Regions from separate parts of the Homo sapiens genome. Here regions 1, 2 and 4 are each linked to region 3. Evidence: fine-mapped expression QTL. A gene starts in region 3. Each other region holds a variant in brackets. All regions are shown on one strand. Distances are between the middles of the regions.

Evidence for each region. PIP is the estimated chance that this variant, and not a neighbour inherited with it, causes the effect. A credible set is the group of variants that fine-mapping cannot tell apart.
Region 1: its variant is the best candidate, but not a certain one, in a credible set for the expression of SATB1 in whole blood (TOPMed, PIP 0.57).
Region 2: its variant is the best candidate, but not a certain one, in a credible set for the expression of SATB1 in whole blood (INTERVAL, PIP 0.54).
Region 4: its variant is the best candidate, but not a certain one, in a credible set for the expression of SATB1 in whole blood (INTERVAL, PIP 0.86).

Annotation. Positions count from the first base shown.
Region 1 is chr3:18,223,115-18,225,801 of GRCh38, forward strand. The region is part of intron 4 of BALR6 (B-cell acute lymphoblastic leukemia associated long RNA 6); the gene reads left to right. Among named protein-coding and RNA genes, the nearest start is that of SATB1, 200 kb to the right of the region's middle. The variant G/T (reference allele first, on the strand shown) is at 1,225.
Region 2 is chr3:18,268,697-18,271,383 of GRCh38, forward strand. BALR6 (B-cell acute lymphoblastic leukemia associated long RNA 6) reads left to right here. Exons shown (of 5, transcript NR_161333.1): 5 at 1-226. Among named protein-coding and RNA genes, the nearest start is that of SATB1, 160 kb to the right of the region's middle. The variant G/A (reference allele first, on the strand shown) is at 1,224.
Region 3 is chr3:18,424,119-18,426,805 of GRCh38, forward strand. SATB1 (SATB homeobox 1) reads right to left here and starts at 1,221. Exons shown (of 11, transcript NM_002971.6): 1 at 1-1,221.
Region 4 is chr3:18,207,777-18,210,463 of GRCh38, forward strand. The region is part of intron 4 of BALR6 (B-cell acute lymphoblastic leukemia associated long RNA 6); the gene reads left to right. Among named protein-coding and RNA genes, the nearest start is that of SATB1, 220 kb to the right of the region's middle. The variant C/A (reference allele first, on the strand shown) is at 1,241.

The DNA of each region.
Region 1 (2,687 bases), 200 kb before region 3:
ATGGGGCCACACACAAAAAATATTACTACTATTTCTTCCCCTCAGCTTCCCCACTCCGCTAAATGAGACATTCTGCAAGGACTGGATACTATTTCTGTCTTTTCACACTTCTCTTGCTAATGTTCAGTGGGCTTCAGAGATCTGATATAAATGTACAGGCGATGTGGAAACTGATTGAGAGGCAGATTTATATTAAAAATTGTATACATATATTTACCACCAGTTTTAATGATGCACTTTTGGTGAAGATGAGTTGCTTAAAACGAAATAGACTTAAGAACATATTACTTAAAAATCATATCATGTGTCTTTTTGCTTCACATTTAAACCAGAAAACAAAATCTATATTCACTGTTAGTATAACGCTTAGAAAAGAAAAGATTTTGTCCATGGCTCCCAAATCAGTAGATTATGGTTGTAAGCCCCAATGAGTTCTAAACCATTTGCCAAAGAGCAAGCACCCACCAACTTCCCTCCCCCTGCCAAACATACACTTCCCTCCTGTCTGATTTATAGAGACCCTTTGTTAGGGATGTAGTAATGAAGCCAGCTGCTGTGTCTTTCTGCAGCCCACTGCACCCCTCCCTCGCCTCATCCCCCAGAACAGTTACTGTCAACACCCTGGGGACACTAGCAGAGAGCTCCCAACAGGAAGTCTGGGGATGCTTTTTGATTCTGTGACCATCTTTCACTTCCTCCTTGAGTCCTCATTCTCACTTTGGTAGCCGAGGTCTGCCCTGCCTGCTACCAGAGTGACAAGAGAGGAGTAAAGAAACCAATAGCAAGATTTGGGTACTTAGAGCACTTTAATGGTACTTCAGGAAAATAAGAGATAAAGCAGAAACCAGGTTTAATAATCATAATAAGAATTCTAGAAGCTGTCTCCCACCACTTTGTGATAAACCCATTATCTCACTTAATTCCTCCCTCAGATGGTCTGAAGTCAGCCTGAAGGTGGAACCAAGACAGACTATTGTGAACACTTAGGCAACAAAAGCGTCAATGTGAAGAGAAGTTCTAGTATACTGTTTTCAGGCTTGGTACTAACCTTCATACTTGGGATGCCCAGCCTGGCTGACTTCTACTCATCTTCTAAGACTCATCACAGACATCGTATCTTTCAGGAAACTTCCGCGTTAGCCTGTCTCTCTACTGACACCCCCTCAGGTGCACTCCCCTGTTCCTAGATATTTCTCTCACTGCAGTTACCACAATCTATTGCCC[G/T]TCTAGACAGTTGGACGATTTATTCTTTGAGAGTAGAGAATGCAACTTGTTCATCTCTGTAGTCTCCGATCCTATTTTTTTTTGCCTTATGTATAGTAAGTGCTCCAAAAAAGTTTGATGAATGAATGAATGAATTCTGAAAGGATACTATAAGAAATGAAAAGAAACTGAATGAAGTTTATAGAAGAAAGAGGTTTTGAGTAGAATTTTAAGGACTGCAGTGTTTGGAGTAAGAAAATATGTTGCCATGTGGAAATGAGGAAGTAAAAGGGTTACATGTAGAAAGTTGTATTTCATTTTGTTTAGCCAAGTTCTGACATTCAGAAAATCGAGAAATAAGGGGAACCAAATAACAGAGAAAGCAATTGGTGGACAGGTAGTTTGAAGCCACTGTGCAAAGGAATTTATTAATGACAGGAGCTACTAACACCACATCGAGTCTGGATGTGCCATGCATCTTGAAAGCTCAAATGTGTGCTAGATTGTCTTGCAAGCTCACAGATTCCAGGAGAGTTATGGACACACTAGAAGGGAATGAAGAAAACCTTTGGCTCTAGGTTTCATTTGAGGCTGCCTTATTCAGCTATACTTCCGATAGCAAAAATGAACCTGCTCTGGAAGTCTACGTTTCTCCTTTATCCCTTGGAAAATAAAATTCAGTTTCACATAAGTCTCTTTACATTTTCATTAAGTTATCAATAGCATCAGAAAATGTTCCTGTTTTCACTTTTTGTTAATTTTTATCTTTTTTGAAAATTATCTATAGCTTCATCATCAGCTGGTGGGCAGAACAGTATGATACCTCAAAAAAATCCCTTATGTCCTGCAGTCATCTTTGTTCTTTCATGAAACACTTTTGAGAGAGGTAACTCCATTTTCTCCTATGTAGACACACACACCCTTCTATGTCATTAGTGATGCATCTTTAGTATCCTCTGTAACAGCCTGCAATGTTGTTTTTTAAATCTTCACTTTTCACAGATGTTGCCACCACATTGATAAAGAAGACCCCAAAAACCATCTCTGGCACCAGAAGTAGCTAGCCAAAAACCTGCATTGCTTCTTCAACACTCCTCCAAACCCTACTCTATTCATTAAAAATGTTTGCCCCTTTCTATCTAATGTATTATCTTAAGGAATTTGCTATTTTTCTCCCAAGGGGAGAAAAAAAAAACTCACTCTTCAAGATGTCACTTTGTTTACTCCATTTAATTATTTAAGAGATTCTTTAAGCCCTTACCACTCAACCTTTACAGTTCCACACAAAAACAAAGCTAATTCAGATGGCTGAGGACCTTTATGCAAATTGAGGTTTTTCAGAGCTGAAAAGGGCACATGCCAGCTTCAGGGCAGGAACAGGCTGGATAGCTCATGTGGAGGGGGATTTTGGTCACAAACATGGAGCCATTTGATGAACATGTAAACTAATATTAGTAATACAGCATTAATTTATTGCTTCTGCA
Region 2 (2,687 bases), 160 kb before region 3:
TGGATTATTCTTTCATTTGCTGATCCTTGTATGTGCAGTAGGATGTTGAAAGTGGGGGTGGTGGCAGCATATTTCTACATCACCTTGGACTTTACCTTTCTGAGAATCAACATAGGTTTCTAACTTTTTTTATGGCCCTGACTGGTGCTTCAGTAAACCCACGAATAAAAGCAGTACTCCAATCTGCAGAGACTCTAGAAGAAAATACTTTCTATGAACCAAAAAACAAAGAGGAAGCTTCATCATTTAATTTGACTGCTAGAGAAACATCTACACATTTCTCACATTCTTCTCATATCAGAATAAGGGATTGTTACAGATTTTTGACCAAAAATTAAAATTTTCTGAATTTAAAAGGAGTGAGTTGAAATGGAAGCCTATACTTATACTTTTCACTTTTTCTCTGGGATCCCATACAAATGCTTCAAATAACACAAAGGAGATCAAGAGTTTAGAGTGGACTCTGTCATAAACAAGTTCTGTGATGTCACTTTCCTTCTTTGAGCTTCAGTTTCCTCATCTGTGAATGCGAGAATGGATGTCATGTCTGGTGAGGCTTTCTAGTTGGTTCTACCCTTCAGTGATTCATCTGACATTTTTCAAACTGTGCTACAGAAACAAAGAGAATAACAGAGAGGAAGAAACTGATGAGATAAACTATTTCAGTTAGAGATTTGGAGGGGTCTAATTAAAGTTTTATTCTTATGGTGTATAGAAGAAACTTTGGCTATCTGTTGTTATTGTTCCCTGATTATAGCTTTCTGAGCTATAGGAGAACACTGTATTGATGTTGCCAGAAGACATTTCAAGGAGAAGATAAAGAAAGAAATTATTTGACTAGAGCTAATAAATATGTATGGTTTCCTGTGTTGTTTTGTTTTTTTAAGAGAGATTAAGAAATGGAGAGGTTTTTCTCTCCATACCAGACAGAGATACAGAGATGGAGCTTTGCAATCTAACGCAGATCTATTTTGTCCACTAATGCAGAAATAACATCATGTGCATTAAGAAAGCTCTGGATCTGTTTAAATCAATTAAAGTAAAGTTAATGTATTTTAATATCTGAGCTCTTCCCTTATCGATATAACTCTGCCATGTTTTCTTCTCAGAGCCCAAGGTGATGAAAAATAGACTCATTTACTCTATTACATCTTATAACTGTGGCTTCAAGATTTTTTTTTCTTTAGTTGTGAAGCCACAAGGAGATTTTATGTGACTCTAAA[G/A]CTGCTGTTGGTTTTCATACCACAGTACTCAAGGGCATTTCTTACCTTCAGGCTGCTATTGTTTCCAATCTGGAGATAAACGCACACTTGATAAAACTATTTTAATGATGCTAATATTAATACTTTGGTAGAATACTTTATCTGCTAGTAATAGCTTTAAAGAGTTTGTTGAGATTTTGTCATCTCATACATTTTAATAGAATATTAGGTTTGTAATTAACAAGAAAAATACAGTAGCTCCACTTCTCACTTCCTCCATATTCACGTAATGATTACCAGTGGAATATCTGCTGTTCTGTACCCTTAGTAGACCAATCAATATTTTGGTGAATGGAGAAGTCTGAAGCACAGAATTGTAGTGTAAACAAATGAGAAACATTAAAAGTATGCTAAATATTATAGCCAGTTGATTATGTAAATTTAAACAGTGTAGGGGAAAGGAATTGCTTATTAAATTAGTCTGTTTTCAGTTCACTCTGGCATTGTTTATTATACGCCGTAGCCAGATATTTCATAAATAGACTGCTTTTACAACCTGGAGGTTTTGGGAATACCAGCTGATTAATGAAGTGGTATATGTGCTTGGAGGCCATGGTGGAGAGAACTTGTCTTACGATCATTTCCATTTTACAGCTCAGGCCTTCTGTGGGGTACAGACAATGGAGAGAGAGAGAGAATAAGATGAGAACTCTGATGAGCAGTTCATTCCAATATGAGCACCTGTTACATCAATCTGTGAATTGGTTGATTTTTAGCTATGTCCTGTTAGTGATCTTCATAGGAGCAACAGACTAAGATTTTCTATTAATAATTCAATGAATAAGTTCCACTCACAGTACATTTGATTAGCCAACTGTAAGAGTATCTACAAGTTTGTGACTCAATGTTTTGGGACTATCTAAGGAAATCTCAGAGTGACAGAATGAACTGGAAGACATCGTGTAATGATGGATCAGAAACTCATTTGCAATCTAGGAAGGGGAGACCAGATCTGCTATAATGGAACCTATTTGAGAACAGATCATGAAAAAAGACTAATTAAAAAAAACGAAGTTGTCATTTTTGTGTCTTGGAAGCCAAGAAGGGAAAGGCTATTGGGAAAGTCCATCTTCCAGACAAGTGAATCCTAATTTTGAAGACTTCTCAGTCTACCAAAATCTGATGCTCTTAAACCTGTTCATTCCATTTTTCTGATTTCCTAGTAACTCTGGTTTTCATTTGGTATTCTACTCCTTTATTTTTTCTCCACTTGGAGGTCATATCAACCTGGTTCCTTCAGCTTTCATCCTCTCCTTTTTTTCTGTCTATAAGAACAGAAATTCATTTGCTTTTCCAAAGTCCCACCTCTATGGAGTCCTTGAGGTACTTTGCTCTTTGTTAACATGGACACTCTCTCCTGCATCTTCTCTCCCTTAGCATAACTCCTTCTCATCTGCCTAAAGCATAGCTCCATTTCCTTCATAC
Region 3 (2,687 bases):
CTTAAAAAAAAAAAAATCACTGCGGACAAGGTCTCCAAAAAGGAAAAAAGGTCTCTTCGCGTCTCTCCCTCCCTCCTGCTCACTCGGGTTCTTCGGTGTGAGGACAGAAAGTCTACTTCTGGCTGTCACTTGCAATATTATTCTTCAATAACCCCGAATAACGCGCATTGGGAAGGCCACCTCGCCTCCCTTCCAATCACCCCCACCCCCCTCGCCAACAATCGCGACTAATATTAACAAACCTTAAACTTTTCCCCACAGCCTCGCACCCCCAACGAGGGCATCTAGCGGGGGACAGCGAGGGTGGGGGGCAGGGGGTCGCGAGAAAAGCCCCGGAAAGGCACTAAAATGCCACTTTTGATTCTGCCCTCGCTGACAACAGCCGCAAGGACCCTCTCCCTGCCCATTGACGCGGGGCTGTGAGCGTCTGGGGTCCCAGCAAGTGAGGAGAGAAGAGGTTCGGGGGGAGGGGGAGGAGGAGGAAGATCAGAAGGCACCCCCAGCCACCTCCACCGCCTAGGCAGCGACAAACTCCCCGCCCCCTCCCCCCAAAAAGTCGCCAAGCTCTCACTCGTCCAGAGTCCGAGGTAAACAACGAGCACCACAATGGCACTAGGACTTTGGGGGAAAAGAAACCCAGAAACCCCGACAAAACTGATCAGGAGTTTCCCGAAATGAAAGAGGGGGGCGGGCAGCGTCCTCTAGAGTCGCCCTGGCTTTCGGCTGGGCCCCCGGGCAGGATAGAGGGCGGCCGCGGCTGTTGTTGTTGTGACGAGGCCGGGTGTTGCTGGGTGGCACAGGGAGAGGTGTGTGTGTGTTTGTGTGTGTGCGTGAGTGTGAGCGCGAGTCCCCGGACGGGGCTGCTTCTCTCGCTCTCTCCCTCGCTAGCTCTACCCCTCGCTGCCGTCTCTGCCCCCATTAAATTATTAGTTGACTCATCCCGGCCGCTGTCGCTGCCGCCGCCGTGCCCCGCTCGGCTCCGCGCGTCCGCCCGGGCTGCAGCCCTCTCCGCCGCTGCTCCTGCTGCTGCTGCCGCCGCCGCCGCCGCTGCCGCTGTGGGTGCCTCTTCTTCCTCCTCCTCATTTTAATACAAAATCACCCCGCTCGCAGCCCCAGCCCCGAGCACGCAGCCTCCTCCCGGCCGCCCGCCGCCGCCCGGAGCCTTCCCCAGCGGGGCCGGCTCATCCGCCGCGTCCGGGGAACGGGAGCGAGCGAGAAAGTGGCGGCGGCGGCGGCGGCGGCGGAGGAGGAGGAGGGGGGAGGAGAGGAGGAAGGGGGTGCGGAGCCGAGGAGGAAGGCGGCGTGGGGGGGCAGGGTGCACGGAGCGGGCGGAAAAGGGATGGGGATTAAAACCCGGGCTGGAGGGCCGGGATTGGGGGAGGGGGCGGGGGCGGCGAGTTAAAAAGCCGAAAGACAAGTAACTAGTGAATGAGTGAGGGAATGGGGGGAGCGCACGATTTCCGGCCCCGGGCGCGCAAGAATTTGTAATGAGCTTGATTAGAGTGAGGCGGCCCGACATTTATTACACACAATACCCAGAATAACAGGGCGCTGTGCGAGGGCTAGCGCCGGCCGCCGCCAGACGCGCCAGGGAGGGCGCAGAGGGGAGGAGGAGAGGGGGCTTCCCTGGCAGCGTCCGCCGGAGCGGGGAGGGGAGCGCGCGGCGCGCGGGCGGCAGGGGCAGGTGTGTGAGTGGGAGGGAGGAGGGGCAGGACGGGCAGGACGGGCACGGGGGGCGGGGGGAAGGAAAATGACGGGGAGGAGGGGGCGAGGGCCAGGGGAGAAAACTAACCAACCACCCACACGCCACAAAAGCCACAAAAAGGAGTACGCCTGGAGCGTCGCAGAGGGACAGGCGAGGTGGGGGGACAGGGAGACGCACCGGCCCCGTGGGAGAAGGGCGCGGGTACGCAGGTGACAGGCGCTGAGGAATGAGGTAGGGAGCCATCAGGAAGTGGCTGGAGGGGTACAGACGGAAGGCAGTTCTCTCCGGGGAAGCGCGGAGGGTGCAGAAACGTGTACAGCAATAAAGGCCAGGAGCCTCGAAACGCTCGGAATGTTTATCCTCTAAGGAGGGTGGTCCTTAAACTATGAGGAGCCAACATTAGAAAGAACTGAGTAAGAGCGTTCTGTACTAGTCAGACGTTGGTTCAAATCGCCCTCACTTCTGAGCCATAGAATACTTTGGAAGAAGAAATACGTGGCCGAGTTAAACAAAATTTGGGTCACTTGAAAGAGACCTGACTTGTTATTATAAAGGAAAAGATGCCATCATTCTTCAAATAATTTACGCTAGGCAAAAGAGGAAAGTTTGGGTTGGTAAATACATCTGTTGTAGCAATAAACACTTCTGCTGTAATCTAGGGTAGGTTACCCAGTTAGATAAATGGTCATTACCACATAAGTATGATCCTATTATTTAGACAATCTATTAAATATAGTTCATGTAAAAATAAAGAATATTACAATGTAACCCAAAATAGAAATGCCTCATTTATCGCTTAGGTTTTAGTTCTACCATTTTAGCACCCTGAAGGCAGTTAATCATTAACAAAAAACAAGAATTATTTTTCAGAATTTGCTGGTAGGGAAAAGAGAAAAATCAGTCAGATAAACATTTTGTTACACATAAAAAAGCAACAAGTTAGCACAAGTACTGAGATAAAAGGGAAATTTGCAAATTAAGC
Region 4 (2,687 bases), 220 kb before region 3:
GAAGGGCTCTTTTTGAAGAGAAGTAAATCTAGGAATTGGAAAATACCCACAGGGAAATGCTTAAGGTTTAAATTTTTGTGCTTTACTCTTAGACCAACTGGGGGTGATTTTGCCTCTTTCCAACTATTTGGCAATGTTGGGGGACATTTTTTATTGTTACAACTTAGGGCAGGGTGCTGCTGGCATCTAGTGGGTAGAGGCCAGGGATGCTGCTAAGCATATTACAATGCCTAGGACAGCCCCTTACAGCAAAGGATTATCTACCTCTAAATGTCAGTAGAACCAAGGTTGAGAACCCCTATTTTAGACTAAGAATAGCCACATTATGCTCCCTAACTTAAGTTCTTTTCCTTGTAGTTTTAATTCCCATCAGTGGAGTATGTTGTGTACATGTTATTTTGTGCTCATGGTGCTATGGAAGATGATCAGGAGGGGGCAACATGGGGAAACGTGGTCTTCCTCAGATCACCCCACTTCTGAAGTGTATCCCCTGGTGAACGCATCACATCTGGGAGGAAATGAATCTCCAGTTCCAGGCAGTAACCAGCTGCAAAGAACTCAGTGGCCTATTGTGACATTTATTTCTTTGTTGTCTCTGAGTCCCAAGCCCACATTTTCTCTATATTCTACTAGAAGTCTGCAAGCTACATTTCCCAGATTCCTCTGCTGGATAGATTCCCATTAAATTCTGCCTTTGAGCAGCATTGGCAGGAGACTGCAACATGAGAGGATGAGAGAAAGAGTCCTTGGACAACATCTTCCTGTTTGCAGCTCCTGGCACATCTCTTTAGCAGCAGAGGGCAGCTATGGCTCCAGTCTCCAGCTTTTAAAAACCCTTTCAGACCCATCCCTTAGAGGTACCATCATCAGCCCTGTGTCTGGACCCCCTCAGAGACCTAATTATCAGTGTGTGGCACCTCCATCCCTGAGCACTGGCAACATGGGGCCCTTCCTCTTGACTCCTAGGTTTTGGTGCCCATAAATTTTCCTTTTGGTTCCCTCAAACCTAGGAATTGTAGCTGCTTCCTGTGGCTACTATTGCTTCTGGGTTTCCTTCTTGCCATTAATCTTCAACATCTGTGTAACCAATTGCTTTTATTAAGTCCTCTCCATTTGAATATCAGGCATGTGTCTATTTTCTTGAACGAACACTGACAGATATACCAGGGTAGAGCTGAGAGTAAAGAGCAGAAGCAGGCAGTGTAGAACAGACGCTACCACGTGGCTTTTGGGAGGCCAC[C/A]ATGAGTTAGCACTCTTTTCTTCCAAACACATCTAGTAATGCTAGGATGTGGAGAGGCTGACACATTACCCTAGTGAAATGCAGAAGTGTTTGCTCCTAATCTCTGTGGTACAGAGGAGGAACTCTGAGGTTGACTGTTCTTCCTTTTGCATGGAAAGACATCTATCTTTACACTGAGATAAGGGTGAGCAGGATGGGACCTCATGTTTTCCTCAGCTCACATCTCTTCTGGACTACTAGGCATTGTAGCCCTGGCAAAGAAGCTTCCTGACAACAGATGAAAGAAATAGAGAATCCAGATCACTCTAGTGAAGATACAGAGTGGAGAAAACCCTGTCCTGCCCTCACACCAGTGGGGGATACAAAAAGTTCTCCTATGGGGCAAGGGGTTACAGTTAGTCTGTCAGGCCACCAATAATTAATGACCAAGTTTGCACAGACAATAGCGGCAAAGTCACAAATGGTCCTGGCTGACCCATGACAATAAGATGTCAACAATTGTACTAACACACTCCAATTTCAGAGATGTCAAAACATGACCAAATGCTTATTGTAGAATTGGTTGAATATTGAAACTCAGAACCCAGACAGATAAATGGCAAAAAGGCTAATACAAATAGGAGAGTATAAACAAGAAGGCAAATACGTGTCAATAAGAACAAACACTTTGAAAATGGTGATAACTACCCATTAGGATACCAAATTAGAATTTATCGAAAGCCCAGTCCCACAGCAGCTTCCTCTTGGAGGTCACCAGATTCAAACAAATGTCAATCCCTCATTGGCATATGACAAACCTTTTTTTAACCTCTTTGGACAATACACCTTCATGAATTATGTTTTCCCCACAACTCTAGTTATGGATAAAGGCAAATTGGAAAAGCAATCATTTATGCCTTGGAAAATTTCATTATTAGATCACATTGGTTTCCAGCAACACGTTATTTTCTCCGTATGTTTTGTCTTACCACAGTCAGCATGAGTGTCTACTATCCTGAGAAATAAGCCATCCCTTTTAGGAGTTAGTGCTTGAATACCACATGATAACAGCATTTCTCTTCACTTCCCCCATTTGGCTGTGACATTACTTGGACACAGGCACAGAGCATTATGGGTTTATTCATAGCAGCACTACTCAAGGTCTGGACGACCAGACAGAATAGCTAAAACAGCTGATCTAGTTGCAGCAGTGGACCCTGGAGACTTAAGTGGACCATTGAAAAACAGTGTCTTAGTCTTCAAAGAGCTTATGGCTTCATATGGGAGATTGAAAAGTGAACAAACCCACTATAAATCCATATGCTGACTGCTGACATAGAAGTGTGTATACCTGGTGCTGTGGGAGCATAGAGAAATGACAAACTGGACAGTATTAGCGTTTCTGGAAGGTAAGATCAAAATTCAAAATGGAAATTATGTTTGGGATGAGTCTTGATGAATGACTGGG